2 linked regions of the Homo sapiens genome follow. The protein of the gene in region 1 interacts with the protein of each later gene in a pairwise test. Each region holds a gene or a part of one and is shown on either strand. Other genes may lie near its edges. The genes, in order: ZNF280A and ENOPH1.

What was found.
Region 2: the proteins of ZNF280A (region 1) and ENOPH1 interact in binary tests that used the Homo sapiens proteins (3 or more experiments, as listed by UniProt).

What each region holds. Positions count from the first base shown.
Region 1 is NC_000022.11:22,513,285-22,529,054, forward strand, and holds ZNF280A (zinc finger protein 280A), read right to left. Parts: upstream 6,987-15,770; 5' UTR 6,805-6,986; intron 4,592-6,804; exon of another isoform or gene 4,496-4,591; intron 2,418-4,495; 5' UTR 2,347-2,417; coding exon 718-2,346; 3' UTR 452-717; downstream 1-451. UniProt on the Homo sapiens protein: May function as a transcription factor.
Region 2 is NC_000004.12:82,450,026-82,464,945, forward strand, and holds the end of ENOPH1 (enolase-phosphatase E1), read left to right. Parts: intron 1-1,017; coding exon 1,018-1,220; intron 1,221-4,696; coding exon 4,697-4,829; intron 4,830-6,889; coding exon 6,890-7,013; intron 7,014-9,955; coding exon 9,956-10,095; 3' UTR 10,096-11,152; downstream 11,153-14,920. UniProt on the Homo sapiens protein: Bifunctional enzyme that catalyzes the enolization of 2,3-diketo-5-methylthiopentyl-1-phosphate (DK-MTP-1-P) into the intermediate 2-hydroxy-3-keto-5-methylthiopentenyl-1-phosphate (HK-MTPenyl-1-P), which is then dephosphorylated to form the acireductone 1,2-dihydroxy-3-keto-5-methylthiopentene (DHK-MTPene).

The sequences.
Region 1 (15,770 bases):
TCAACAGTGAAATAAATTTATACAAAACTGCCACAGTCACTCAACAAAATTCTACCCAGCAATGAAAAAGAATGTGCTACTGCTACACACAGCAAAAATGCATCTCACTTATTTTATTTCATTTTACTTTATTTTGAGACAGTCATGCTCTGTCACCCAGGCTGGAGGGCAGTGGCGCGATCTCAGCTCAGTGCAAACTCCCCCCTCCCAGGTTCAAGCGATTCTCCTGCCTCAGCCTCCCGAGTAGCTGGGACTACAGGCGCCCACCACCACGCTTGGCTAATTTTTCTATTTTATGCAGAGAAGGGGTTTCACTATGTTGGCCAGCCTGGTCTCAAACTTCTGACCCCAAGTGATCCACCCACCTCAGTCTCCCAAAGTGCTGGGATTACAGGCATGAGCCATCACACCCAGCCATCTCACTTATTTTAAAAAGCCAAAGACAAGAATCTTTGTGTGATTCCATTTATTTAAAGTTCATGAACAAGAAAAACCTCTGAGGTCAGAATAAGGGATGCCCTGTTGGGAGCATTTGACTGGGAAAGGGCTCAAAGACTTTGGAGCTACTTCTTGACAATAGGGAGCTGATGAGATGTCACTGTAAAAAACAACCTGACAGTTGATGACATTGCTTGCTAGCATCTACAGCCACAATGCACATATGGCCTAGCCTCACTTCTGCCTTTCGGAACTCCTGGAAGTCAGTCGAACATATTTTCAGCTAGAATCCTTGCTGCAAGGGAGTCTGGAATCTCTAGTGTTCATAGCCGTCTTCTTTTTAGTTTTTACAGGAGAAGACTGAGGGTCAGTGTTGCTAACAATAACGGAAGCCATACCACTTGATCCTGGCTGAACTGAAGTTTGAATAATAACTTTTGTTTCACTAGGCAACCCTTGCAGTTGCTCCGGCTTTTTAAATGTTTGATGGTCCTTGGTTTTGTGCTCTATTTCCTCCTTCAACGTCAAAAACTGTAGCCGGCACTTGGAACACTGAAGGACCCTCCTTCTGCTGTGCCTCCAACAATGATTCATGTATGGTATTGCAGTTTTGAAAAGTTTGAGACAAAACAGACAAAGCAAATTCTTTGTGTTTTCATGGCACGTTCTAAAATGTGTTTCCACATCAGCAAAGACCGACGATCTGTAATGGCAAACCTGGCACACATAAGGCATTTCGCCAGGCTTATGATGGTCCTTCATGTGTTGTAAGAGGACCTGATCTGTTTCAAATGACAATTCACAGATTTTACAGACAGCAGAGGGCCCCATGGCGATGTGTACACTATCAATGTGACACTGTAGCTGGAAGGGAGTGGGAAACTGCCGGTGGCAGTGCTGGCAGGTGGTGTGGTCTTCCCAGCTGTCGTTCCTCTGCTTCTCAAATTCCAAATGATGCTTCATGTGATTCATAAACTTAATATTTTTTAGAACTTTCACGCAGCTGAGGCATTTAAAGGTGGTGTGAGTCTTCTGTTCCGGCTGCCCATCTCCTTTATGCTGTCCATAGTAAAAGTCGCTAAGTAACACGATGGGATTTTCTTTCTTGGGATCAAAGGTCTTGTTTTGACTTGCTAGACTTGAAATGTCTGTCATTGCCAGGGCAGACTCACTTGCTCTCTCTGGATCTGTAAGATTGAAATGTGCCTTTCCATTAGCATCAGGCCAAGGAAATGTTACTCCATTCTGAACATGGTTTGATGAGTTGCAGATCCCCTGTGAGGGTGTATTTGTGCTTATTGTAGAAGACATATCTGAAGGGACCACAGCTAAAGAAGGTACCCCTGGGATTCCATCCCTGAGTTTAACCCTTTTGGAATCTCTGCTGTTTATATCTGAAGTGGAAAGTCGCTTTGAATCAGGAGAACTCTCATTTCTGCCTCCTCCAGAGACCATAGCTCCAACTAGACACTGAGTCCCTGGGGGGAGCGAGTCTGAGGAACTGGGAGAAACAACTTGTGGTGAGCTCATTTTATAACCAGGTTCAGATGAAGACTTCATAGTGACAGGACTATCTGTCGATCGCCCCTCAGACAGAGAAACCGGCATGATGGCTTTTGCCATAGAGGTCACATGATTTGCAGGCTGCGACACGTGAGCAGGATATTGACGGAAGTGGCCTTTCTTTCTTCTTGAATTTGAGCCTGGGGTGACTCTGTTCAAAATGTTTGAAACGACTGGTTTTGAATTTGAAATCATCCCGACAAAGAGAACTTCAGCATCTCTATGTACATGCTCCACCCCAACATAGATCAGATCTGGATCTTCATCATCCTCCTCCCTTTGTTTGGATTCTCTCAAATTCTTCTTTGGTGATTCCACTTTCTTACACAAAAAGATATCTCCCATTTTCAATTTACTTTTTGCTTGAAGCCACTGGTCTCTTCAACTTCCAGAGCTGTCTTTTTACAAATTGCCACCTAAGTGCAACCATGTGACAATAGTCAATATTTATTTCGAAAGACAAAATCATTACTTTATTGTATCCTCCCTTAAAACACTGAGATAACCATCAACATCTCTATTTTACACGTCAGAAATGAGGCTTGAAACATTTTAAATGGCATAATAATTTCAAATTTACCTGTCTCTCCTCCCCTGGTCTTCTGCAGTTGTGAGGCAAAGGAAGCAAGATTTCAGGAGGTGCAGATGGAACATCTCAGAGTGCTTGCCTCTAAATTTTGCACTCTAGATGCCTCACTCACCTCCTCCTCATCCCACAGGTACTCTCTCAGATGTCTAAGGTTTCTAACCAACTTGAACAAAACTTCTCTCAAAAACATTCTGCTCCTAGCCTGGGCAACATAGCAAGACCCCATCTCTACAAAAAAATTTAAAAATTAAAAAAAATTAGCTTGGCATGGTGGTACACACCTGTGGTCCCAGCTACTTGGGAGGCTGAGCCAAGAGGAACACTTGAGCCCAGGACTTCAAAGCTATGTTCATGCCACTGCACTCCAGCCTGGGCAACCAAATGAGACCCCATCACACAAACACACACACACACAAATCACAGCACACACACACACACACACCCTTTGCTGTTCCTGTAATGTTCCTTTTCTCAGTAAACTCAGTTGCTCAGTCTACAAACTTCAGAGTCATCCTTTGCCAGACTTTCTCTCATACACTACAGCCAATCAATTAGCAAAGCTAGTCTGCTCTATCTTTTAAAGATATCCAGAATCTGACTACTCTCTTCCACATCTACTGCCACCTCCCTGATGGAAGGTACCATGTTCTCTCCCTGGATCACTGCAGAAGTTGCCAGTCTTAAAAGTTTTGTCAGATCTCCCCATGGTGGCCCCAATGCCCCTGTTAAAATATACAGGGGAGCAAGTATATTTCGCTCTTAAGTCTTCAATGACTTTCCATTTCATTCATAGGAAATACCAGCAAACTTTAAATTTCCCCATGGAACCTTAGGTCATCATCGCCCTTGCTAACTCCTCTGTTGCTCTGATGCAGCCATCCTGAGCTCCGTGAATCTGGAACACAGCAGGCCTTTTTCTTTTTCAGAACTTTTGTTGTTCCCGGACGTTGCGTGCCTCTTTCCCCAGATTAACCCCATCTGGGCTCCTGGTCTGCCTCAGTCCCATGGTTCCTCTTCAGCAAGGCTTACCTGACCACAATATCAAAAATCACAACCTCCTTAACTCATATGTTCAAACCCTCAATGTTATTTTTCAACTTAGCATTTATCACTGCCTACCACACAATATGTAAAATATATCTTGCAAGCCCAGGAGTTTGAGATTACAGTGAGATATATCATGTCACTGCATCCAGCCTGGGTGACAGAGGAAAGGAAGACTCTGTGTCTTAAAACAACAACAAAAAATGGGACAGGTGCAGTGGCTCGTACCTGTAATCCCAACACTTTGTAAGGCCAAGGCGGAAGGATTGCTTGAGGTCAGGAGCTCGAGACCAGCCTGGGCAACATAGCAAGACCCATCTCTACAAAAAATTTAAAAATATAACTTGTTTCTTTTCTGTGTTTACCCACTAAACTGTATGCCACACGAGGGCAGGGAGTTGTGTTTCATTTACTCCTCAGCTTATAGAGCAATGTCTGTCATACTGTGCATGCTAAATCTTTGTTAAATAAATAGTAGCTGTTATTAATATGATCATTTAGGTGTACCAGAGGCTCTAATCCATTATTCCAGATTCTCTAAGCATTTAATGAAATCCAAATCCAAATGATTTAATACTGTTGTACAAGGGAGAAGGTAAACCTGTGTGTATGTGTGTGTAAATTGAAACAAAAGTTTTGTCAAATACTCTAATACCTTCACCTTACCACAAGGGATAGGCTCTGATACCTTCTATGCCATATTTTATTGATTCTAAGGTATAGGCTTAGATTTCCATTTTAACATCTCTAAATCAGATTGCATCTCATCATAGCATCTCATCAATATAAAATACATTTCATAATTTGTTTTTGCAGTATATATTTTTATTTCATAGTGGAATCAAAAATGACATATCTCAGATCCTTTTGTGAGGATAAGCGTGATGCTTGGGTTTTCACTCATGTGAGATGTGCTTCCCTCAAACCTTGTTATATCAGCATGTTTAACATCTGATGTAAAAAAAAAAAAAAAGGAGAGTAATGTATCTTTTATAATTGATGGCATCTTTTTTTTTTTTTTTTTGAGATGGAGTCTCGCTCTGTCGCCCAGGCTGGAGTGCAGTGGTGCGATCTCGGCTCACTGCAGGCTCCGCCCCGCGGGGTTCACGCCATTCTCCTGCCTCAGTCTCCCGCGTAGCTGGGACTACAGGCGCCCGCCACCTCGCCCGGCTAATTTTTTGTATTTTTAGTAGAGACGGGGTTTCACCGTGTTAGCCAGGATGGTCTCGATCTCCTGACCTCGTGATCCGCCCGCCTCGGCCTCCCAAAGTGCTGGGATTACAGGCATGAGCCACTGTGCCCGGCCAATTGATGGCATCTTATAGTCAGTGAAAAATCCTATTTCTTTTTGTAAGCTGACAGCACACTAAACTTGTTTTGTAGTTCTCTAATGGATATCAGCTACATTTTGGCAAACAATGGTTTAAGACAGAAATTGGAAAATTGGCCCTTCCCCTGTTTTTGTACAGTCAGGAAGCCAAGAATGTTTCTTACATTTTTAAGGTATTGTTTTCTTACTTTTTTTTTATTAAGATTTTTTTAAACTTGTACATTTTTAAATTTGGGGGAATAAACATGCAAAAGGAAGCGGGGCGCGGTGGCTCACGCCTGTAATCCCAGCACTTTTGGGAGGCCGAGGTGGGCAGATCACTTGAGCTCAGGAGTTCGAGACCAGCCTGGCCAACATGGTGAAACCCCTTCTCTACTAAAAATACAAAAATTAGCCAGGCATGGTAGCAGATGCCTGTAGTCCCAGCTACTCGGGAGGCTGAGGCAGGAGAATCTCTTGAACCTGGGAGGTGGAGGTTGCAGTGAGCGAAGATCGCACCACTGTGCTCCAGCCTGGGTGACAGAGTGAGACTGTCTCAAAAAAAAAAAAAAGAAAAAAGGAATATTTTGTGATGTGAAAATTATATAACATTCAAAATGTCAGTGTTCACCATAAAGTGTTGTGGAACACAGCCATAATCATTTTTTTAGTGCTGTTGTCCATGGCTGCTTTCACACTTCTATGACACAGTTGAGTACAGTAGTACCCCCTTATCTTTGGGGCATATGTTCCAAGACCCCCGAAGTGGATGCTTGAAACTGCAGATGGAACCAAATTCAATATATACTATATTTTTTCATATATGTACATACCTATGATCAAGCTTAATTTATAAATAGGCACAGTAAGAGGTTAAGCATAACAAAATAATTATAACAATATACTGTAATAAAAGATATGTGAGATAGGGCGTGGTGGCTCATGCCTGTAACCTCAGCACTTTGGGAGGCTGAGGTGGGTGGATCACCTGAGGTCAGGAGTTTGAGACCAGCCTGGCCAACATGGTGAAACCCATCTCTACTAAAAATACAAAAATTATCTGGGCAGAGTGGCGAGCACCTGTAATCTCAGCTACTTGGGAGGCTGAGGCAGGAGAATCACTTGAACCCGGGAGGCGTGGGTTGCAGTGAGCCGAGATCGCACCGTGGCACTCCAGCCTGGGCGGCCAGAGTGAAACTCCGTTTCAAAAAAATAAATTAATAAATTAAATTAAAGGTATGTGAATGCAATCTCTCGCTGACAAAATATCTTTATGTACTGTAGATCTTGGCAACCTTAGCATACGATTTTGTTTTCTTTCCTTATTATGTTAAAAACTTTCCCATTTTCACTTAAAGGAAGCAAGCACTTTACAGCTTCTTTTTGGCATATTTGAATCGCCAGCATTGCTACCCTTGTACTTTGGGGCCATTATTAAGTACCATAAGGGTTAATTGAACACAAGCACTGAGATACCACCAGGACAGTCACTCTGATAACTGCGACCGCTCCTAAGTGACTAAGGTACAGAGAGCGCAGCCAGCCAACAGCATGGGGACTCAGGACAAAGGGAGGATTACCATCCCAGGGCAGGGCTGACTCAAGAGCTTATCACACTACTCAGAAGGGCTGGCGACTTAAAATTTATGTATTGCCTATTTCTGGAATTTTCCAATTAATATTTTGGAACCTCAGGTAACTGAAAGCACAGAAAGGAATACCCTGGATAAGGGAAGACTACTGTAGTTGAAGCAGAGAATTGCAATGCCTAAAATATTTGCCATCTAGTCTTTCACAGAACAAGTTTGCCAGCTCTAGTTTTAGAGGAGCAAAATGAAAGATAGCAAATTTCTCAGCTCACCAGTTCCTAAAGTTGCGAGTGCATCCAGATGATTCAGTGCAGCTCAGTATGTTCCACTCTGGGCCGCAAGGGAAAGCGAAGCTGGAGCTTCCTTGTCTCCACCTCCCGGAGAAATTTGTCCAGAGACCGGCAGCACTGCTTCCGCAGGCGAACAACGCCGCTTGCTCTTCAAAGTCCTTTCTGAGGCCAGATCAGAAGGTCCCACTCCTTTTAAGCCCCTTATAGCCCAATCATTTTTCCAGTCACGTGTCTGAAGCAGTTTATCCTGATTGGATTTTCAGTTGTTGTCCAGCTTGATTGCCAAAAGTTTTCCTCCAATTGCTACTCAAAGGAAAGAATGAGGGTGGGGCTTCAGGGCTGCCTTCCAGGTTGATTGAGCTGGTGATGGGCATCCTCCCTCCTCTCTCTCTTGTTCAGAGTCTACCACTTTCTCTGCAGTGTGCCTGGGCCCTCAGCTATTGGGGATGAGAAGGGATGCGGAGTGGGAGGCAGTCCACATGTCTGTTCCAACAAAGCTCAGAGGTGAGCGAGTTGAAAAGCAGATGTCTTTCCAGTAGGAGCCCCAGGGGACAGGGTGGGTCTCAATCTCACAGCCCTTGAAGACCGAGCTCCCGTAGGAGTTTCCAGGTGTCCAAACAGGGTCCTCACTGTGAGTCTTCAACAGCTTTCTCCAAGCAGCAGCCCACTCCCTTCTTAATCCATTTCCAGGGGTCAAAGGTCTATCCTGGTTCCCTCCCATGCCCTCTCACTTCCTTCCCTCTGTCTCTCCCTCCTCCCTCCTCCTTCACTACCCCCTCCCTGGAACCTTCTCAGCTGAATTTCAGGCCCACCCTTTCACTCTCTTTACAGGCTTTGCAACACAGATTAGAAAGCGGGGGAGGGGGAGCCTCAAGAGTCCCTTGACAGGTAAGAAATATTTATATTTCCACCCCCATTCCAACGCAATGCAATCAAGTCTCAAAATTAAAACGAAAATCATTTGCAAATTAAAATGTTCTAAAGTACCATCTCCTGATAAAACTTTAAAAATACCTTTCTGGGCCGGATGTGGTGACTCACATCTGTAATCCCAGCACTTTTGAAGGCCGAGGCAGCAGATCACATGAGCCCAGTAGTTTGAGACCAGCCTGGCCAACATGGTGAAAACCTGTCTCTTATTCTTTATAAAGTAAAATACAAAAATTTCCTGGGCGTGGCCGTGCGTGCCTGTAATCCCAGGTACTCGGGAGGCTGAGGCAGAATAATCACTTGAACCCAGTAGGCAGAGCCCAAGGTGGTATAAAAGTGTGTGACCCATGGTCTTTATTCTTGTCTAGGGACTGGGGAAAGGCTGCTTGAGGGCATTGCAAGTAGCCAAGAGCATGACCCTGGAAAGGAAGGTGAAATGAGGCCCGCTACTGAGGTACACCTGTAGTCCCAGCTATCAAAGGCTGAGGTGAAAGATCTTTGAGCCCAGGAAATCCAGACAAACCTCAGCAAAATATCAAGACCTCTGTTTCTACAAAAGAAAAAAAATTTTTTTTAATTAGCCAGGCATTGTAGCACGTGCCTGTAGTCCCAGCTACCCGGGAGGCTGAGGTGGGAGGATTGCTTGAACCAGGGAGATCGAGGTTGCAGTGAACTATGATTGCATCACATACTTTAGCCTGGATGGAAGAGAGAGACCTTGTCTCATTCATTCATTCATAAATAAATAAGCAAGCAAAGTGAAATGAAGTGCAAGACTTAGACAGTAAAGTTCTAACAGGGGCCGGGCGTGGTGGCTCACGCCTGTAATCCCAGCGCTTAGGCAGAGGCAGGCAGGTGGCTTGAGCCCAGGAGTTTGAGACTAGCCTGGGCAACCTGGCAAAACCGTGTCTCCACAAGAAAATACAAAAAATTAGCCTGGGTGACAGAGTGAAACCCTGTCTCAAAAAAATAAAAAAAGAAAAAAGAAAGGAAGACAGAGAAAGAAAGAAGGAAAGAAAGAGAAAAAAAGGAAGGAAAGAAAGGAAAGGAAATGTGTATTCTGCAGAACTGATATTCACTCCTTCCTCTTTTCCAGAAGCAGAATCCTGCTAGGAAGATTCCAGGAAGCCTAGGCAGTGGTCAGGGGCTGGCTCAGGTATAAAGCAGGCCCTTCCCCTGAGACAGAAGGTTGTGGCAACAATGCTTGTGGGAGGTGAGAAAATTGAGAGGAGTGTCTAGAAATAGCTCGGAGTTGCATCTTATTTTCTTTTGCTCAGTTTTAAAAGTCCCAAATAAGACCACATCTAGCTGTTCTAACCAAGCTATTCTAACCCACTAATCTAGTAAAAATAAAATCACATGGTCTGAATATAAATTTGCATCAGGATACATGCCTTTCCTATGAAACATTTATGTTTCCTTATAAAATGTATCCTCCTTTTCTGCAGAAAACTAACTGTAATGCATCCAAAGGTCACAGAATGTGGTGAAACATCCTCATCATTGATTTTTTTAAAAAATTTTATTTATTTATTTATTTGTTTTTTGAGACATGGTCTCACACTCTGTTGCCCAGGCTGGAGTGCAGTGGAACGATCATGCAGTCTTGATGTCCTGGACCCGAGCGATCCTCCCACCTCAGCCTCCCAAGTAGCCAGGACAATAGGCAGATGCCACCATGTCTAACTGATTTACTTTTATTTTTGAGTAGAGATGAGGTCTCACTATGTTGCCTGAACTGGTCTCAAGCTCCTGAGCTCAAGCAAACTTCCCACCTCGGCCTCCCAAAGTTCTGGGATTACAGGCGTGAACTACCCGCACCCTGCCCTCCATAACTGATTCTTTTTTTTCAGACTTCACTCTGTTGGCCAGGCTGGAGTACAGTGGTGTGATCTCTGCTCACTGCAACCTCCGTCTCCCAGGCTCAAGCAATTCTCGTGCCTCAGCCTCTCAAGTAGCTGGGATTACAGGCATGAGCCAACACGCCCGGCTAATGTTTGTATTTTTAGTAGAGACAGGGTTTCACCATGTTGGCCAGGCTGGTCTTGAACTCCTGATCTCAGGTAATCTGCCCACCTCGGCCTCCCAAAGTGCTAGGATTAAAGGCGTGAGCCACCACGCCCAGCCATAGCTGATTCTTTATCAGTCTGCCTTTGGGAAGTTTCCACTGGGAAACACTCTCCAGGACTGTTTCGGACCAGCCCCACTTTCCAAACAAAGAATTCCAGTGATGAGATTAAAGCTTGTCACAATATGTTTTTCAAATGACTGGTAGAAGCAGACCTTAAGATTAAAAAAGAAGAAGAAAAAATGGCTGAAATCTTGAATCCTTTATTGCTTTAAGGCACAGAATAGGAAATGGATGGCGCGTCGGGAATGGATGCAGGTCAGGGACAGACCATCACTCATGCCACCTTGCTGTGTTTATGAAACAGAGTGCTAGAAGTTAAATTTGGGGGATGCACAAAGAGATGCCTAATCAGATGAACTCAGAGTTGGAATTGCTGTTTGTGAGACAGTTACATCAAAGGAAGAAAAGAAGGAGAGAAGAAAGGTGACTATCAGGAGAATTTTCCAGCCAGAAGAAAGACACAGAGGCACAGGCATTTCATGGCCTGAAAAAGGAAGAGCACAGAGACAAGTGTGGCTCCAGTTAAAGGACCAGCGGAGATGAAAGATGAGGTCAGTGATTTGGGTAGGGGACATAGCAGTTAAGATATTGTTGGTCAAGGCTGGGCGTGGTGGCTCACGCCTGTTAATCCCAGCACTTTGGCAGGCCAAGGCGGGTGAATCACGAGGTTAGGAGATCAAGAGCATCCTGGCTAACACAGTGAAACTCCGTCTCTACTAAAAATACAAAAAAATTAGCCGGGCGTGGTGGCGGGCGCCTGTAGTCCCAGCTACTTGGGAGGCTGAGGCAGGAGAATGGTGCAAACCCAGGAGGCGGAGCTTGCAGTGAGCCGAGATCACGCCACTGCACTCCAGCCTGGGCGACAGAGCAAGACTGTGTCTCAAAAAAAAAAATAGACGTGAAGGATGCAAAGATGCGTATGAGTGACAGTATGTCTAATCTCCTACTTTATGAATGGCCATTTTCAAATTCTATCATTCCTTCAATATTTATTAATTCTTTTGTAAAGAAGAATGTTGATTTGTCTATCAGTGTGGCACCAGGAAGATTTATGTTATTTAAAAATGTTATAAACAGATACTGTCATTATTTTTTTGATGCTTCAAATGTCAAGTGAGAGTCCCTTTACCATGCTCCCCATATCTTTATTTTTCCTTTTTTGAGAGAGAGAGTCATGATTATTCATTTATTTCACACCTGATTCTCATTACATCAGTCTGAGAGAGGAAGGAGTTATGCACCAGCGCATACAATTGTGCTGTTCTATTATCCTTCAGACAGTATTGGGATCTAGGTTCTAGTTATTTTTAAATTCAGGGATCTGAATCAGAGCCCAAAGAGGTTGACTGCTGCTGCTGGGGACTGGGGGCTGCTGGGAGAACAGCAGAAAACAGGCATGGAGCTGACCCTGGACGGTTCATGCTCCAGAACTCCGATCTTGGTACCTGAGGATCTTTCACGGAGATCATGGACAGGGGTGTGACAGCAGTTCCTCAAAGCAAATGGGGATGGCAAACCTGGGGCTGGTACTTGGGAGTTGGAAAAACAACCATATTTGCACAAGGAGAAACTGAAAAACCGCTGTCCTTCCATCTGTATCCCAGAATCCTATGTAGAACCATGAGGACAGGGCCAGGGTTGGTTCCTTGGTCTCTGTTTGTCCTCATCAGTAGTCCAGTAGGAGTCCTGCAAACTTATCACCATCTGGAGACAGTGCTGCCAACTCTTCTTTATGCCCCACTGCTTGAGATGCTAGTCGATTGCTTTAGACTATTCATGATTCTTCTTCCTCAACTCTTCACATTAAAGAAATTCCTAGCCAGGTATGGTGGCTCATGCCTGTAATCCCAGCACTTTGGGAGGCCAGAAGTTGGAGACCAGCCTGGGCAACATGGCGAAACCCTGTCTCTACAAAAAAATAGAAAAATTAGCTGAGCGTGGTGGTGGGTGCCTATAGTCCCAGCTACTTGGGAGGCTGAGGTAGGAGGATCACCTGGAACCTGGGAGGCAGAGGTTGCAGTTTGCCGAGATCACACCACTGCATTCCAGCCTCGGCAACAGAGTAAGACTGTCTCAAAAAAAAAAGGAAAGTAATTCCCGTTCTTTGATGAAACTCTGGATCTCCCGGTCATTCCGTGTTTTAATCAACTGTTCTCAGGGTTTTCTAGTTCCTTGGTTTCATAATTTCAGTCTCAAGTCTCACTTTCTCTGTTTTTATTCCTGAGTTTCCTCCTAAGGTTCTTTTCATTGCAGCCACAGGCCTTAGTCCAGGGTCTGCAGAGAGCTAGTACTTACTCTGCCCAAATGGAATCCAAGAGCATCAGAAGGTGCCCGAAGGTGGAAATGTGTTTCTGCTCTCTGCTTTTGGCAGTCTTGCTCTCCATGTCTTTTTTGACATGCCCCCTGATACAGTTTGGATGTTGTAATCAACCAGATCTCGTGTCAAAATGTAACCCCTGATGTTGGACATGAAGTCTGGTGAGAGGTGATTGGATCATGGAGGTGGATTTCTCATGAATGGTTTAGTACCATCCTCTTGGTACTGTCCTCGTGATAGTGAGTGGGTTCTCCTGAGACCTAATTGTTTTAAAGTGTGTGGCACCTCCCGCATCTCTCCTGCGCTGGCTATGATATAGCTATTATGGAAAGCAGTACGGTGGTTCCTCAAAATATTAAAAATAGAGCTACCATATGATTCAGCAATTCCATTTCTGGGTATATATCCGAAGGAAATGAAATCTATATGTTAAAGAGGTATCTTTACTCTCATGTACATTGCAGGACTATTCACCACAGTCAAGATGTGGAATCAACCTAAGTGTTCATGATGAATGGATAAAGATAGTGTGGTATGTATACACAATAAAATGGTATTCAGCCTTTCTTTCTTTTTTTTTTTTTTGAAACAATATCTTCCTCTGTCACCCAGGCTGGAGTGCAGTGGCACGACGATCATAACTCACTGCCGCCTTGAACTCCTGAATTCAAGCAATCCTCCCACCTCAGCCTCCAAAGTAACTGGGACCACAAGTGCATGCCACCAACACCTGGCTAATTAAAAAACAAATTTCTGTAGGGACAAGGTCTCACTTTGTTGCCCAGGCTGGTCACAAATGCCTGTACTCAAGTGATCCTCCCGCCTTGGCCTCCCAAAGTGCTAGGATGACAGGCAAAAGCCACCATGCCTTACCACTATTCAGCCTTAAAATTCAGCCTTAAAATCAAAGGAAGTTCTGTTATTTGCAACAACATGGATAAACCTGGATGACATTATGTTAAGTGAAATAAGTCAGACATAGAGAGACCAATACACAGTGTCTCACTTATAGGTGGAATCTAAAAAAGTTAAACTCACAGAAGCAGAGAGTAAAATGGTAGTTATTAGGGTCAGGACGGGTAGAGGATGGGGAGAATAGGCTAAAAGGTACAAAGTTTCGGTTAAACAGGAGGAATTATTAGTTTTGGAGACCTAACATATAGTCTTACAGCATGGTGACTATAATTAATAATAATGTATAGTATATTTTAAAATTGCTGAGTGAGTAGATTTTGAATGTTCTCATCACAAAATTATAAATATGAGGTGATTGCTATATTAATTGGCTTGATTGATATGTTAATTGGCTTGATTTAATCATTACACAATGTGTGCACATATATTTATCATGTACATCATAAAATATATACAAATTGTCATCTGTCAATCAAAATTTTAAAAAAACATTGAAGATCTGGGCACTAAGTATGCTCAATTGTTATTGCTTCAGTAGACAGACCTAGAAAATACAGTGTACTCATATTTCCATTTAAATTTAGTGCCATGCCAGGGATTCTTCTTTCATTTAATTTTATTTATTTTTATTTTTATTTTTATTTTTTGAGACAGGGTCTCACTCTGTCTTCTAGGCTGGAGTGCAGTGGCGCAGTCTCGGCTCACTGCAACCTCTGCCACCCAGGTTCAAGTGATTCTCCTGCCTCAACCTCCCCAGTAGCTGGAATTATAGGTGCATACCACCACGCTCGGCTAATTTTTTGTATTTTTAGTAGAGATGGGGTTTCACCATGTTGGCCAGGCTGATCTTGAACTCCTGACCTCAGGTGATCTGCCCATCTCGGCCACCCAAAGTGCTAGGATTACAGGTGTGAGCCCTTGTTCCCGGCCCCTTCCTTCATTTTATATTTTTATATATACTATACTCAAGTGATCCTCCTGCCTCGGCCTCTGACATGGTTTGGCTGTGTCCCCACCCAAAGCTCATTTTGAATTGTAGCTCCCGTAATTCCCACGTGTTGTAGGAGGGACCCAGTGGGAGATAGCTGAGTCATGAGGGAGGTTTCCCCCATACTGTTCTCATGATAGTGAGTAAGTCTCATGAGATCTGATGGTTTTCTAAGGGGTTTCCCCCTTTCACTTGGCTCTCATTCTCTCTTGCCTGCTGCCATATAAGATGTGTCTTTTGCCTTCCACCATGATTGTGAGGCCTCCCCAGCTACGTGGAACTCCAAGTCCATCAAATTTATTTTTCTTTATAAATTACCCAGGCTCAGGTATGTCTTTATCAGCAGTGTGAAAATGGACTAATACAGCCTCCCAAACTGCTAGGCTTACAGGCAAGAGCCACCATACCTGGTGACTATTCAGCCTTAGAATCAAAGGAAATTCTGTTATTTGCAACAATATAGATAAACCCAGTTGGCATTATGTTAAGTGAAATAAGCCAGACATACAGAGACAAATACACAGTGTCTCACTTTAATTTTTTTTAATTAAATTTTTTGTACAGATGGTGTCTCGCTATATTGCCCAAGCTGGTCACCAATTCCTGGATTCAAGTGATCCTCCTGCCTTGACCTCCCAAGTGCTTGGATTACAGGCATGAGCCACTGTGCCTGGCCTATTTATATTTTTAAATCCCATCATTCTTATTGTAAGACAAGTACAAGAATCTCTCCTAAGTCTAAATGTATTAGGTCATTCTTGCATTGTTATAAAGAAATACCTGAGACTGGGTAATTTATCAAGATGTTTAATTGGCTTACAGTTCTGTGGGCTGTACAGGAAGCATAGTGGCATCTACTTGTGGGGAGGCCGCAGGCAGCTTACAATCATGACAGAGGGTGAAGGGGAGCAGTCATGTCGCATGGTGAAAACAGGAACGACAGAGCAAGAGGGGAGGTGCTACACACTTTTAAACAACCAGATCACTGAGAACTCACTCACTATTGGGAGAATAGTACCCAGGGGGATGGGTGCTAAACCATTCATGAGAAATCACACCCAGGATCCAGTGGCCTCTCGCCAGGCCCCACCTCCAACAGTGGGAATTACATTTCAATATGAGATTTCCGTGGGCAAACACATCCAAACTATATTATTCTGCCCCGGACCCGCTCAAATCTCATGTCCTTCTCGTATGTCAAAATACAATCATGCCTTCCCAATAATCCCCCGAAGTCTTAACTTATTCCAGCATTAACTCAAAAGTTCAAAGTCTTATCTAAGACAAGGCAAGACTCTTCCACATATGAGCCTATAAAATAAAAAATAAGTTAGTTACTTCCAAGATACAACGGGGATACAACCATTAGGTAAACATTCCCATTCCCAAGGGAGAAATCAGCTAAAAGAAAGGGGCTACAGGCCCCATGCAATTCTGAAACCCAGCAGGGCTGTTGTTAAATCTTAAAGCTCCATAATAATCTCCTTTGACTCCATGTCCCACATCCAGGACACACTGATGCAAAGGGTGGGCTCCCAAGGCCCTAGGCAGCTCCATCCCTGTGGCTTTGCGGGGTTCAGCCCCACCCCTGTGGCTATGCGGGGTTCAGCCCCTGCCACTACTCTCATGGGCTGGCATTGAGTGCCTGAGGCTTTTCCAGGCACAGG
Region 2 (14,920 bases), on another chromosome or scaffold:
AACTCACTGGCAGTTATTTTCTAGTTCTATATTGGATACTGTGGAATGCTCTCTGTGGATGTTTTACTGTTAGGAATTAGGATTCAAAATGTAGTTATGTCCTTTGGGCATGGAATATTTGGGATTTTAATTTTCTGGATAACTCAGGGTTAATCTGAAATACAGTGAGTCCTTACTTAATGTTGTCTTTAGGTTCTTGGAAACTAAGTGAAATGACACTTAAATTTCAATTTTCAATTTTAAACCAACCATAACAAAACCAATTTTTTCTCCACATAAATGTTATAACAAAATGATGTTGAAGGAAATGACATTACTTGAGAAGGTCATGCCACTTGAAGTCACAGTTTCCAAGAACCTTTCAATGATGTTAAATGAGGACTTACTTTACTTTCCTCCCTTACCTTTTTTTGTTGTCAAAACCTTGTTGAAACATACATACATAGTCCCCCATTATTGTATATAAATATGTACACATGTATCTTTAGAAATTGGACTGCTTTGTCACAAGGTCATTGTTCTAAGTGGCTACTAGGATTTTTGCAAGATGTGGGAGATTATAGGAGACTGAATGTGAACCAACCTCATTACTTCACTAGCTTCTTTTTGCTGAATTCCAGGCATAAACTAATTTATGAGATTTTCTTTGTTTCTTTCTCCATTAGTTATAGTGCAGAGAAAATTATCAGATTGAGTTAAAGTCCTGGTTTGTTGATCCCAGTAGTGAATCAACAAATCAAATCTTAATTCTATCATTATGTGCTCTCTCTTCTCATATACAACATGCGTCTCAGTTTAAATTTCAGCTTTTAGCAAAAGGAAAGGTAATGTAAATTTATTAATCCAGGTTCTTTTAGGAATCATTTGTATCAGCTCCAAAGTATATGATGTTTCAATTTGCAGCCATACTAGGGCTAATGATGGAGAAAGTTGTTCTGCTGGGTTTTTGGGTCTCGTTTTAAATGACTGTTTTTTGAATAAGCAAAAAACAAACATCATGTTGTTTCTGACTTAAAGGCTGAAGAGGACGCCCACCTGGATGGGGCTGTTCCTATCCCTGCAGCATCTGGGAATGGAGTGGATGATCTGCAACAGATGATCCAGGCCGTGGTAGATAATGTGTGCTGGCAGATGTCCCTGGATCGAAAGACCACTGCACTCAAACAGCTGCAGGGCCACATGTGGAGGGCGGCATTCACAGCTGGGCGCATGAAAGCAGAGTATGTGCTTGAGTCAGCCTAAACATTTCACCAGTCCCAAATCCAAATATGTTTTTTCACCAGTCCTCTCTTTCCAGCGTAAGTCACAAGACTGGTAAAACAGATAAAAATCCACACTCTTTTTAGTCTAACAAGTGAGCTTTGTTTCATTTTTTCAAAACTTGGCTAAAATATTTCAGCTGACTAGATTACCCGGACCTGCCAGTCTGGTCTTGTGGGTTGATTGAAGGACTTGTCAAAGTCTCCGTTTAAAATAGCTTCCTAGAAAATGGTGACTTCCTTGAACTAAGTCATATTTGATTCTTAGCACATGAGTGACAGCTCCGTTGGGCTGCTTGCCTGGACTGTTAATTACCTGCTTTTTGCTCTATGAGACATAGGAAATTTTGTGCCCCACCGTGTTGAGGTTACTCAGAGGATGTCCGCACTACCACGTTCTTCTTTGCTCTTTTGAGCAACTTCCACAGATTCTTTGAGTCTTGGTTATGGAGTTCCTAATAGCACTCCTGCCTGAGGAGACTTTTGAGTATTATACTTACTGAGAAATTCTTGATTGATTCAGACAGGGTCCTACTCTGTTGGCTGGAGTGCAGTGGCATGATCATGGCTCACTGCAGCCTTGACCTCCCCTAGTTCAGGTGATCCTCCCACCTCAGCCTACCGAGTAGCTGGGACTAGGCATGTGCCACCATGCCCAGCTAGTTTTTGTATTTTTAGTACAGATGGGGTTCTACCATGTTGCCCAGGCTAGTCTCAAACTTCTGGGCTTGAGCGATCTGCCTGCCTTGGACTCCCAAAATGCTGGGGTTACAGGCGTAAGTCACAATACCTGGCCTATTTTTTTTTTTTTAGAGCTGGGGTCTTGCTCTGTGATCCACACTGGAGTGCAGTGGTGCCATCATAGCTCACTGTAGCCTTCAAGTGAACCTCCCGCCTCAGCCTCCTCATTAGCTGGGACCACAGGCACGCACCACCACACCTGGCTATTCAAAAAACATTTTTGTAGAGGTGTGGTCTTGCTATGTTGTCCATACCATATTGCTGATAAATTCTTTTCGTTTGTTTGTTTCTGTTTTTGCTTTGAGACCGAGTCTTGCTCTTTGCCCAGGCTGGAGTGCAGTGGCGCAATCTCAGCTCACTGCAACTTCTACCTCCTGGGTTCAAGCGATTCTCCTGCCTCAGCCTCTGGAGTAGCCGCCTGCCACTATGCTAATTTTTGTATTTTTAGTAGACATGGGGTTTCACCATATTGGCCAGGCTGGTCTTGAACTCCTGACCTCAAGTGGTCCACCCCATCTCAGCCTCCCAAACTGCTAGGATTACAGGTATGAGCCACCCCTCCCGGCCTATTTTTGTTTTTGGAGATAGTCTCACTCTGTTGTCCAGGATGGAGTGCATTCACACAATCTTAGCTCACTGCAACCTCCGCCCTCTGGGTTCAAGCAATTCTTGTACCTCAGCCTCCCAAACAGCGGGGACTACAGGTGCGTGCCACCACACCTGGCTAATTTTTTGTATTTTAGTAGAGACAGGGTTTTATCATGTTGTCCAGGCTGGTCTTAAGCTCCTGAGCTCAGGGCAGTCCACCTACCTTGGCCTCCCAAAGTGCTAGGATTACAGGCGTGAGCCACTGTGCCAGGCCTGCTGAGAAATTCTTTTTTTTTTTTTTTTTTTGAGACGGAGTCTTGCTCTGTCACCCAGGCTGGAGTGCAGTGGCGTGATCTCAGCTCGCTGCAAGCTCCGCCTCCTGGGTTCACGCCATTCTCCTGCCTCAGCCTCCCGAGTAGCTGGGACTACAGGCGTGTGCCACCACGCCCGGCTAATTTTTTGTATTTTTAGTAGAGACAGTGTTTCACCGTGTTAGCCAGGATGCTCTCGATCTCCTGACCTTGTGATCCGCCCCCCCTTGGCCTCCCAAAGTGCTGGGATTACAGGTGTGAGCCACTGCACCTGGGTGTGAAATTCTTAAGGATTTTAGGCCATTGCCTGCTGTAAACCCTAGGATCCAAGATTGTTTCCAGCTGCATATATTTCTTTTGTGTTTCTGTCAAATGAGATGTTGTTTCTTTATTTATGTACTTTACGAGGAGCTTCTACCTTTTAAAGGATGGACTGGAATTTCAGGATATGCCAGTGATCTGGGAATATCAGCCAGGTTCACTTTGTAAAGCACTCAAAAAAGTGGAGACAGGAGACTGTGCACCCGGTAGTTAGCCCATACTTCTCTTGGTCTTGGTTCCTTAATTATACAACTAACTGCTGAAGACAGGAAAAATCCTGTCTCCATGAGTGCAAACTAGTACTCAGAATAACATACTTACATGTGTACTGGTTTTGAATACGTTGATCTCTTTCCTTCAATTAGTGCAACATGTTAAGCATGTTAATACATATAAAGCGGAAGACTCCACTGACATTTTCCAGGTAATCTTTTAGAGATGACTGGTTCTACAACCCAAGTTCTTTGTGCTTCTCTTTTCACCTTTCTCCTGTGATGTTAATTTCCTCCATGACTATGGAAAACACTAGAATTGGTAAGAGAGACTGAGTGTCAGAAGTCAGAAAAAGACATCTTTTGCTGACTGGTTAATGTGAGTTGGTACAAGTCTCAACTGACTTGTTATGTAATTTTTTCCCCATATAATAAAACATTGTTTTCTTAGTTCTCAAAAAATGCAGGCCGGGTGCAGTGGCTCATGCCTGTAATCCCAGCACTTTGGGAGGCTGAAGTGGGGGGATCACTTGAGTCCAGGAGTTTGAGACCAGCCTGGGTGACATGGCAAAGCACCATCTCTACAAAAAATTAAAAAAAAAAAAAAAAAGCTGGGGGTGGTAGCACATGCTTGTAGTCCCAACTACCTGGGAGGCTGAGGTGGGAGGATCACTCGAGCCCAGGAGGTAGAGGTTGCAGTGAGCTGAGATCATGCCACTGCACTCCAGCCTAGGCAACAGAGCAAGACCCTGTCTCAAAAAAAAGTAATTCCATTTTCTAGCTAATCATAAGTTTATAGCTTTGAGCCTTCAAACTTTGTTTTGATTATTTTGGGTGCAGATCTTTCTAAAAGCATTTCCATGCTTTCTTAAAGCACAGTGGACATAATTTAACCTTTTCTTGTCATGAAGAACATCAAAGATTATATTATATCATTGCTGTTGTTTGCTTTTTTGAGTTCTTCGGGAATTTAAAAAACACTTTCCCATTTCATCCTTTTATCTGTAGTCCCTTTTTACTGTCACTAGTGGCTGTCTGTTCAAAACTATCCTCCTTTCCACATAGATTGTTGCTTCTAATCTGCTGTGAGCCTGGAACTTGGGCAGTATGTTTATTAGAACTGCAGGAGTTTGTAGTCTCAGGGAGCTGCTTCTCAGGTTACCATGTGGGCACAAAGAGAGAAACATATGGCATCTGTTTTGACAGGTTTTTATCTGGCTAGATGAGGTGTTCCTGTATTTTAACTTAGTGGTCTTCCCTCTAGGTTCTTTGCAGATGTAGTTCCAGCAGTCAGGAAGTGGAGAGAGGCCGGAATGAAGGTGTACATCTATTCCTCAGGGAGTGTGGAGGCACAGAAACTGTTATTCGGGCATTCTACGGAGGGAGATATTCTTGAGGTAGGTTACCTAGTTTACTTTGTTGTTTTGACGCTATCAAAGCATAAAATAATGAATCTTAATGGAAAACTAATTGGAACTAATAGAATGCTTTTTTTTTTTTGGTTGTTTAAAATTAGGTAAGAAGAAAATAATCACTTTTAATTATATTGTATTTACAGTTTCTTCTATATAAGGTTGTTATATAAAGTTTATTCTGTGTCTTGAAAAATAAAATCAGTTAGGATGCAAAATAGGATTGTGCAGTCCTGAGAAATATATAAAGACTTTTTGAATACAGCAGAGAACAAGGTGCACTCATTTGTTTCTGGCTCTTTGAAGAAATATAGATTTCATTTAAGAAGAACCAGCATTATTATAGGAGAACCAGGCACATTTTTAAATGTAATAAGGTCGTCACCTGTTGCATTTCATGTACATGAGAAAATTCTTGCTAGCCCCTCTGTGTCATCATCCCTGCACCCCCTGGAGGATGGGGTGATCAGTGAAAGAAGTGACTACATTTAGGGTTTTAAAAAGAAGTGCTGATTAGCTGAATATAGACCAAACTTAACAATAGGTAACTTGGAATATAGACTTAACTTAAAATAGGTTACTTACAATAGGTAACTTGACCAGATACTTTTTAAAAATAAATATTTACCGGCCGGGCGCAGTGGCTCACGCCTGTAATTCCAGCACTTTTGGAGGCCAAGGTGGGCGGATCACGAGGTCAGGAGATCGAGACCATCCTGGCTAACATGGTGAAACCCCGTCTCTACTAAAAATACAAAAAAAAAAAATTAGCCGGACGTGGTGGCGGGCACCTGTAGTCCCAGCTACTCGGGAGGCTGAGGCAGGAGAATGGCTTGAACCCAGGAGGCGGAGCTTACAGTGAGCTGAGATCGTGCCACTGCACTCCAGCCTGGGCGATAGAGTGAGATTCCATCTCAAAAAAAAAAAAATTTACTTATTTTAACTTACAATAGGTAACTTGAATATAGACCGAACTTATAATAGGTTACTTACAATAGGTAACTTGGCCAGACAAGTTTTTAAAATAAATATGTATTGAGCACCTACCATGTGCAAAGAACACTTTGGCTTTGGAGGTTGTAATATTCTAATTTTAGTATTTTCCTACTTTCTGTCTTATTTTTAAATCAAATATTAATAATGAAACCCTTTAATCATTGGTGACTGTTCTCTTAATACAGATACAACTTCTTTTCTGCTCTCTCTGACAATCATGACAGGACAAAAGTACCTACTGAGTTCACTAATAAGAATTTTACTCTCTAGTTACCAAGTGAGGCAAACTGCAAGAAAAAGAAAATAAGCAAAATCAGTTTTAACTTTAAAAAAAAAAAACTTAAAATTACTTTTTTTTTTTTTTTTACCTTCCCATTGGCCAAACCCAGTTTGAGTGCTTACTATGCTTGTTTTTAGTTTGTGAAAAGTTCTGAAAACATTCAAAAGATCACATCTTAGTAACTGACCCTAAATATGGACTTATTTTAATTACTGTTGGTCAAATTAGCAAGTTACAGATTTGACTCCAATTGTTTCCAAGAGGGCAGAGACATAGACGAGCCCTTGGGTAGAATTTCAAAACGTTTTAACTAGAAAATGAGAATTTCTTGTAAGTAAAATAATAGCTTATTCATGAGGCAGGTTAGAGAAATTTTTTCATCGTAAGATTAAAGGACAGTGTTCAGAATCTTTCATCAGGAGTAAAATTCAATCCAGTGAGTAGTTTGAGTGCAAATCATCTTTAAGGGTAGGATGTAGGGCATGTTTATTTTAAACTATTTCAGATGTAAAATGAACGGTAGTGAAAACCAGGTAGATTATGAAATGATCTTATGTATGTTGAGCTGGTAGTTTTCTTCTTCCAAATGTCTGTTGCTATAAAATCTTTATTTTTACTTTGTATAGCCTCCATAAAGTTCCCTATTAAGTAGATTTTCAGAAAATACTGAACGAATGAAGTAATTGTGATTGTCATGTATTTCAGAGAAAGGCATGAGGGGCATGCAAGTGTATTTGTATTGCCAGTCTTTCCCCTTCTCTTTGTTCAGCTTGTTGATGGTCACTTTGATACCAAGATTGGACACAAAGTAGAGAGTGAAAGTTACCGAAAGATTGCAGACAGCATTGGGTGCTCAACCAACAACATTTTGTTTCTGACAGATGTTACTCGAGGTGAGTAATAGACTTCTTATATTATATACTCCAGGATATGAACTGAGCCTGGCACTACAAATACATTGCCTCTTTAAAGAAACTTTATATGGGGATCCTTGAAAAATAAAACAGTTTTACGGTTTTATATAAAGAAACAGTGTCTGGTTCAAGTTCATGTTTGAATTAAAAAAAAAAAACACAGCAGTGAAGGCAGGCTTGGTGGCTCATGCCTGTAATCCCAGCACTTCTGTGGGCTCAGGCAGGAGGATTGCTTGAACCCAGGAGTTCGACACTAGCCTGGGCAACAATGTAAGACCTCTGTCTCTACAGAAAAATTCAGAAAGTTAGTTGGGTATGATGGCTCACTCCTGTGGTCCCAGCTGCATGGGAGGCTGAGGCAGGGGCATCAGGTGAGCCCAGGAGGTCGAGGCCGCAGTGAGCCGTGTTTGTGCCACTGCACTCCAGCCTGGGTGACAGAGCAAGACTGTCTCAAAAAAGAATGAACCAACTCTGGGGGTTGCATGTGGGGAAGTGGCATTGAAAAGACTAACTCTTCTCGTTTAACTCCTTGTCCGTGATTTCCCAGCCATCGCTATGTACACACACACACACACTATGACACAGGAAATTAACAGGAAGACTTAGAGGAGTTGTCATGGGAAGGAGCATGCAAGCGGGGTTGTGAGTATAAGGGGTAGGTAGTTGAGCCAGCCAGTTCTGGGATTAAATGCACAGTTCCATTTGTGATCCCCGGACCTTTGCTCTATCTCAATATTAAGAATTATAACCCCTGTCCTTAGACCACTTATAGTTTCTTCATATTCTTGTGTTTAGCCACTTAATTTTTGTATTTGGGATCACATAGTACATCTATAATTTCAGATCTTTCTCTTCTCATTTAAGCCATTTCCTCAGTTGCAATTGTAGAAATTATTCCTAATTTTGGAGAATAGAAATAATCCCTAAATTGGCTTCAAAATGAAATTAGCTCCCTTTGATTCTCTGTAAGGAGGTTTTATTCCTGCCCTTCATCTTCTGCTGGCCCCATACACACTTAGGCCAGAACTTGGGTCATCGGCAGCTGGGATGAGGCAGGGAGCTGTCTGCCTGCTTGCTCTTTTCTCTCTGGTCCTGTTTTGGTACCACATGCCCAGACTTCCACTGCTGAGGCAGAATGAAAAACTAAGTTAATATCCCAAATAATGGCTGGGCGCGGTAACTCACACCTATAATCCTAGCACTTTGGGAGGCCAAGGTGGGTGGATCATTTGAGGTCAGGAATTCAAGACCAGCCTGGCCAACATGGTGAAACCTTGTGTCTACTAAAATACAAATATTAGCCAGGCAGTAGTGGTACACGCCTGTAATCCTGGCTACTCGGCTGGGGGCTGAGGCAGGAGAATTGCTTGAGCCTGGGAGGCGGAGGTTGGGATGAGCCGAGATCATGCCACTGCACTCCAGCCTGAGCGACAGAGAGAGACCCTTCTGAAAAAACACAATAAAATAAAAAATAAAATCCCAAATAATACCCAAGTATGAAAAAGTGTCTCAGCATTACAACAGTAGAGCAAATAGATGCTTAGGGATAAAACTTGCCCTGCAGTGAATTAGATAAAAAGCCTGAATATGGAACGGCCACTTGTAGTGTCAAGTCCCATGTGGATTGTGATGGCTTAACTTGGTCATATTCCCGGGTTGCCAGTCACGATGAAAACTTTGCTCAGGGCAGTCAGGCTAGGAAGTAGGGGTGAGTGGAAGATAGCTGCCTTTCTCCAATGGCATCTGCAGAGGTGGTCTGAAGAAGACATTCCCACACAGAGAGGGGAGTCTTGAGTACTGTTTGCTCTGGGAAAGTGACAGGCCCTTTCACAGGCAGAACAGAAAGCAGGCACTTGAGGAGGTGGGTGGGTGGAAGAAACAGCTCAGCCCCAGTGTGTCTCCTGGGAACTTAACTCTCTCAGCACGACTGCCCTTCAGTTAATCTGTTCAGGTGCTGTGACTCTTCTCCAAAGGCTGAGAAACTAATGGTGATTACTCTTACACCAAATCTAAATTCCACGGGATTTATATATATATATTCCAGATTTCTCACCAGTTTTGTTCTATCTGTCCTAGTAAGCGCCATCTCTCTTATCACAGGCCTGTATCCCATTTCCCACTCTAACTTGCTCCATTCTAGGCTGGGAGTATGACATGTTTAGGGTCTGGAGGTAAGAGCAGATATCTTGGGCTGATTAAACCATAGGATTCCATTTGTCCCATTATCTTCTTTGTGTTTTTATTTTTTTGATACAGGGTCTCACTCTGTCACCCAGGCTGGAGTGCAGTAGTGCGATCTCGGCTTGCTGCAGCCTTGACCTCCTGGGCTTAAGCAATCCTCCCACCTCAGCACTCTTGAGTAGCTGGGACTACAGGCACACGCCACCACGCCCGGCTAATTTTTGTATTGTTTTGTAGAGATAGAGTTTCACCATGTTGCCCAGGCTGGTCTCGAACTCTTGGACTCAAGTCTGGCGTTCAAGTGAACTCCTGGGTCCACCGTGCCCAGCCCCATATCATTTTAATTCGTGTTACCAACAGCTTGTCCTTTGGGAAACAGCTCAGTTCTCGGTATGGGCTGATGGGAGGAAGTGGAGGAAAGGTGTAGGACAGAACATGGCTCCATCCTTCTGCATTCATAAGTACTTAATAAAGCTCAGAAGTGTAGGATACACTGCCATTCTCTTCTGTCAAGTACAGTTACGTATTTTTTAAAATTTTATCATGGAAAAATTAAAACATACATAAAAGAGATAATAATATAGTCAACCCCAGGGTGCCCATCTTTTAGCTTCAACAGTCATCAAATCAGGGCCAAATTCATTTCTTCCATCCCCACATCCCCCTGCTGACTTTGCTGCAAATCTCAGACATCATTTTTTGGTGTTTCTGACACACACACATCCTTTGATTTTTCACAGAGGCCAGTGCTGCTGAGGAAGCAGATGTGCACGTAGCTGTGGTGGTGAGACCAGGCAACGCAGGATTAACAGATGATGAGAAGACTTACTACAGCCTCATCACATCCTTCAGTGAACTATACCTGCCTTCCTCAACCTAGAGAAGGGTTGTTAAGGCAGACCGCCCTGTTCCCCAGAGTTGTCCCTGTAGTGTCTAGGTTTATTCTAATGGTAAAAGTAACTTACTTAAAAAACATATGTACACATATGTATGCAAGTATGTATATATGTGTATGCTCAGATTAACTTCCATAGGTACATAAGTGAAAGAAGTCTCAGTTCAGTGAACACAAAACTTATTTAAAGATGCTTTATATGTAGAAATTGTTTCAAATCATACTCTAACCCTTAGTGAGGGCAAAGTGTAGTTGGTAGAAGAAATTGCTAAATACCTATCTAATGTGCTATGTTTATCAAATCGTGTACTAAAATGGAAAGCTAGTTTTGAGAAATTATTCAGAAGCCTTGTTATTTTAAAAATGAAATATTTCAAAGACTGAATATTTTCAAAGAAAATGAATAATTCATTGCCCTTGTGATTTAGAAGATTATAACAGCTGTATTTCATATTTGCCTCCTTATATATATCAAAGACCAAGGTATTTCCTTCTGCTTCAAAAGAACAAAATTGGGAAAGAAAACTCACTTGAGTCTTGATCAAACAAGTGTCTTTTACTTAAGAAGAAACTTGGTAATCATTGTGGCACCCACAGCAAGCAGTTGCCTTACCAGTGAAAAAGGTGCACTGAGGTAACATCTAAAACAGAGATGTGGTTCTTAATGTTTAACAGAACAGTTCTAATCCTGCCACGTGTTATCATTATAGATTTTATAGTTGCCTTTCTAACTACTTAGCACAGTTTGAGAATACGTTAATTGCTATTTACTATTTAAAAAGTTTTACTGAAATCAGTCCATAACATTAAGATGAGCCCTAATATGTAAGATTTTCCTCTGGAATGGATGTGAGAAATGTAAATTTTATAACAGCAGTATTTATCCTGGTTTAATTCTAATACGATGTCATGTTAATTTCATGTTGTGATTAATAAAAGCATTTTTTCTTCACTCAGTTTTATATAGGTTCCTGAACTCTATCCACATGCCGCCATAGCAAAAGAGAAACTGAAAAACAAGAATATTTAGCTCTTATCTTAATCGTGTATCATGTGTGTGTTTTAATGGAGTGCCGGTGGCAATTCATGGTTATTATTTGAGTTATGTATACATATAAGGTTACTATTCCATTTGGATAGTAAGCATTCAGGATATGAGTGGAGTTCCTTATATTTTTGAGAATCTTAACTTTGAGGTCTCTAAGGTAATGCTTGAAGGAGGGAGTTACTCTCCTAACTAATCAAGAAAAACTCACGAATCCTGGAGGAGCAATTTTAGAAATGCTTTGAATAAGGAAAAAGAAGTCTTAGAACTATGAGAGGACAGGGGATATAAAAGATTTTATGTTGATAATTTTGATCTAGTAGCCAATTAAGAAATCTAGGGTCTATGAAAATATATGAATAAAAAAGAAAGGAAATGAGTTTAGGTACATCTTAGAAATGGGAATAATTTGTAAATGATGATAAAACCACAAATAGTAATAAAAGGATGAACTTAATACCTTTTTTGGAAAGCTCATAGGCAGATGGCAGAAAGGGGTATATCTTAATGTTATTTAAGGAGTAGTTGGAAAATGAAGAAATGAGAAGATTAGGCACTAGGATCTAGATTAGAAAGGAATTGAATAAAAAGGAAGGCACACAGCATCTAGCCAGCAAAGGATTGAGGTGGAGAGGCATTTTACTACCCATGTACACTGAGTAAGGAGGACAGAAAATCAATAGATTTCAGGAATTAAGAGAAAATTGAAGTATCAGATTTATTTTGCAAAGTAAGGGAAAAACTAGTTGAATGGAATCGTTTTTAGATCCTAGGAAAACCATTCACAAATGATGGAGAAAGGTCGTAGGAAGAATTTGAAAGATAAAGTAGATTGGCAAGAGAGGAAAAATACCTATCTAAGAATGTAAGCAGTGATACACAATGTATACATGTATTGAAACACCACAGTGTACCCCATAAATATGCACAGTTATGCATCATTAAAAAACTTTTTTTAATGTGGATAATGAGCTAGAAGATGAAGTCAGATGAATTCATAGTCCTTATGAGGGGAAGGAAGGCAAAAAACCTCTGGAACTTCCAAAAAGAGGACAAAGGCCTCAGCCTCTTGTTTGCAGAGAATATGGAGGACAAAAGCGTCTTAAAGTTGTGGCTCTTTTTATTCCTGTTTATTAATCCAGATGTACCTCTGTTGTTCTCTTTCCTACAGTGGCGCTGATTTCTAATCTTGGGTCAAAGCCCAGGTTGGTTTTTTAGAAGAGAAGCCCTTAACAGAAGATTCTCTAATCTTATCAACATTTCTGGAGTAGCAGGACTTCTTTTTGGTCTGGAAAGCGGGTTTTAGTTGCTACGCAGAATGTCAAATGTGTAGTTGCACAAGGAAAGGTTGAAAGCCACTGGCTTATTGCCAGGGCAGATGCACGGCAGCCTTTCCCCAGCAGATGGTGCTGTTTCTCCAGACTTGATATGAAGTGTGAGGCTCCACCCCTCCTCCCCCCCTCCCCCAACCCCCGCCCCGTCGCCCGCCAAATACAGCAGATGGAGCTAAGAGAGAGAAAACTATATTTTGTTTATCCTTACAAGCCAAAAGCTTGATGTTGCAAGAGTTGGAGTAGTTTGGAAAAAATGGCAGTAATCCTGAATGAAATCCAACTATCTAATATTCCTTTTCCTCAATAAAAAATTAGTGATTTTTAGCCCCTTTTTCCAGCGGCAGTGTTAAAAAGGGATTGTTTTCAGGGCTTTTTTTATTCCCACGAGTACAAAGTTGAGTATAATATATTCCAAAAGTTTGTTAACCTACCACCTGTGCCCAGATGGCAAAGTGATATTATCCTCAACCTAATATTTAAGAATAACGTGGAGTTTTTACTAAAACACTTGGAGTAACTGACAGAAGTAAAATTTCTACCTTACAAATTCAACCCAAATTTATTCCTTAAATATTTATTAAGCATTTACCTTGCATCCCAGATCTGCTATGAGGGGACAAAGTTCCTCTCTACTCCCATTGTGCATACATTTTTCGAGAAGAGAAACAATGGTGACTAAGACAAGAAAAAATTAGATACTAGTAAGCGCTCTGCAGAGAACACAGGGTAGAATAACTTTACAGGAGGGGTGATGAGAAGGTGACATCTAATCTAAATGACATGGAAGACATGTAGGAAACTAGGAGAACTGGTGTTCCATGCAGATGGAACAGCATAGCACAGATCTAGGGCAAAGCTTGGCCTTTTTCAGGAATTGAGAGCCCAGTGGCTGGATACCATCAGAGAAGTGGGCTGAAGCCAGATGATAGTGCTTTGTACTCCAGTAAGAAGTTTGAATTGTATTCTAAGTATGGTAAAAAGCCCCTGGAGGACTTTGAGCAGAAGATAACCTGAGTGGTTTACATATTTAAGGAATTCTGTATGGAATGGAGAATGGTTTATAAGTGGGCATGACTGCATGCAGGAAGGTGAGTTAAGTATATCAGGGTTGAGTGCTGCAGGCAAAAATCACAAGGAGTTAGGTGTATACAACATCAGTGGAAGAACTGGGAGAAGAGTCAGGGCAACTACCACTGGACTGTGGAGTTAGAGGACACCTCACAGTGGTTAGCTCAGGAAGCCTGCTACCATTGCCACTGTAGCTCATGCCCACGACGCTGGCCAGACTCTGGAATGCCAGGCCCCATTGCTGCAACCTCTCCAAACAGAACACTTCCATCTCTTCTCCAATTAGGGGGTAAAATTGGCACTTGAGAGAGTCAATCTACTGGGTCTGAGAAGGCTGTTGTAGTAATGAAGGTAAGGGATGGTGGTGGCTTGCCTTAGGGTGGTAAAAGCAGAAATAGAAGTGGAAAGATTCAGAATAGGTTTTAGACATGACAGTGACCACTTATTGATTGATTGGATTTGAAAGGGTAACTCTTACATTTTTAGCTTAAGCAACTGGATAGATGATACTACTGGAAAAATAGCAGTGCTGCTGATAATAATGTAAAGCCAATGTAGATCCTGATGTCAACATGACCGAAGAGCAGTTGGATATAAGTCTAGAGTTCAGAATGCTGGCCTGGCTGGAGATCAGATTTGAGAGTTCACTGGCATAGAGATGCTATTAAAAGCCATGGGATGGGGTTGCTTAGGAAGAGTCTGTTGATAGAGAAGAGAGCCTAAACAGCCCGTAGGCTCCAACACTAGAGGTCAAGCCAAGCAAAGAAACCAGCAAAGGAGATGGGAAAGTATTGGGCACTGAGGAAGGAAAACCAGGAGAGTGGCAGGGGAGCCCATTAAAGAAGGAACTATTCAAATTTATCAATTGCTGCTAAGAATTCAGTTGAGAATAGCAGTGGCCCTGCAGTCTAAGTGGAGTGGTGGGAACAGAAGTAAGATTAAGTTGAGGAGGTCAGGAGGGCCTATGAGGTCTAGCTAAAGATTTATCCATTTTGTTGATCTTTTTAAAGAAGAACATTTGGTTTTGTTGATTCTCTATTTTGTTTATTTCCACTCTAATCGTATTTCCTTCTGCTTGCTTTGGGTTTAATTTGCATTTCTTTTTCTAGTTCCTTAATGTGGAAACTTATGTAATTGCTTTGTGAGTTTTTTTTTTCTTTTTTTTTTTGAGATGGAGTCTCGCTCTGTTGCCCAGGCTGGAGTGCAGTAGTGCAATCTCAGCTCACTGCAACCTCCGCCTCCTGGGTTCAAGCGATTCTCCTGCCTCAGCCTCCCAAGTAGCTGGAACTACAGGCACCTGTCACCACGCCTGGCTAGTTTTTGTATTTTTAGTAGAGACAGGGTTTTGCCATATTGGCCAGGC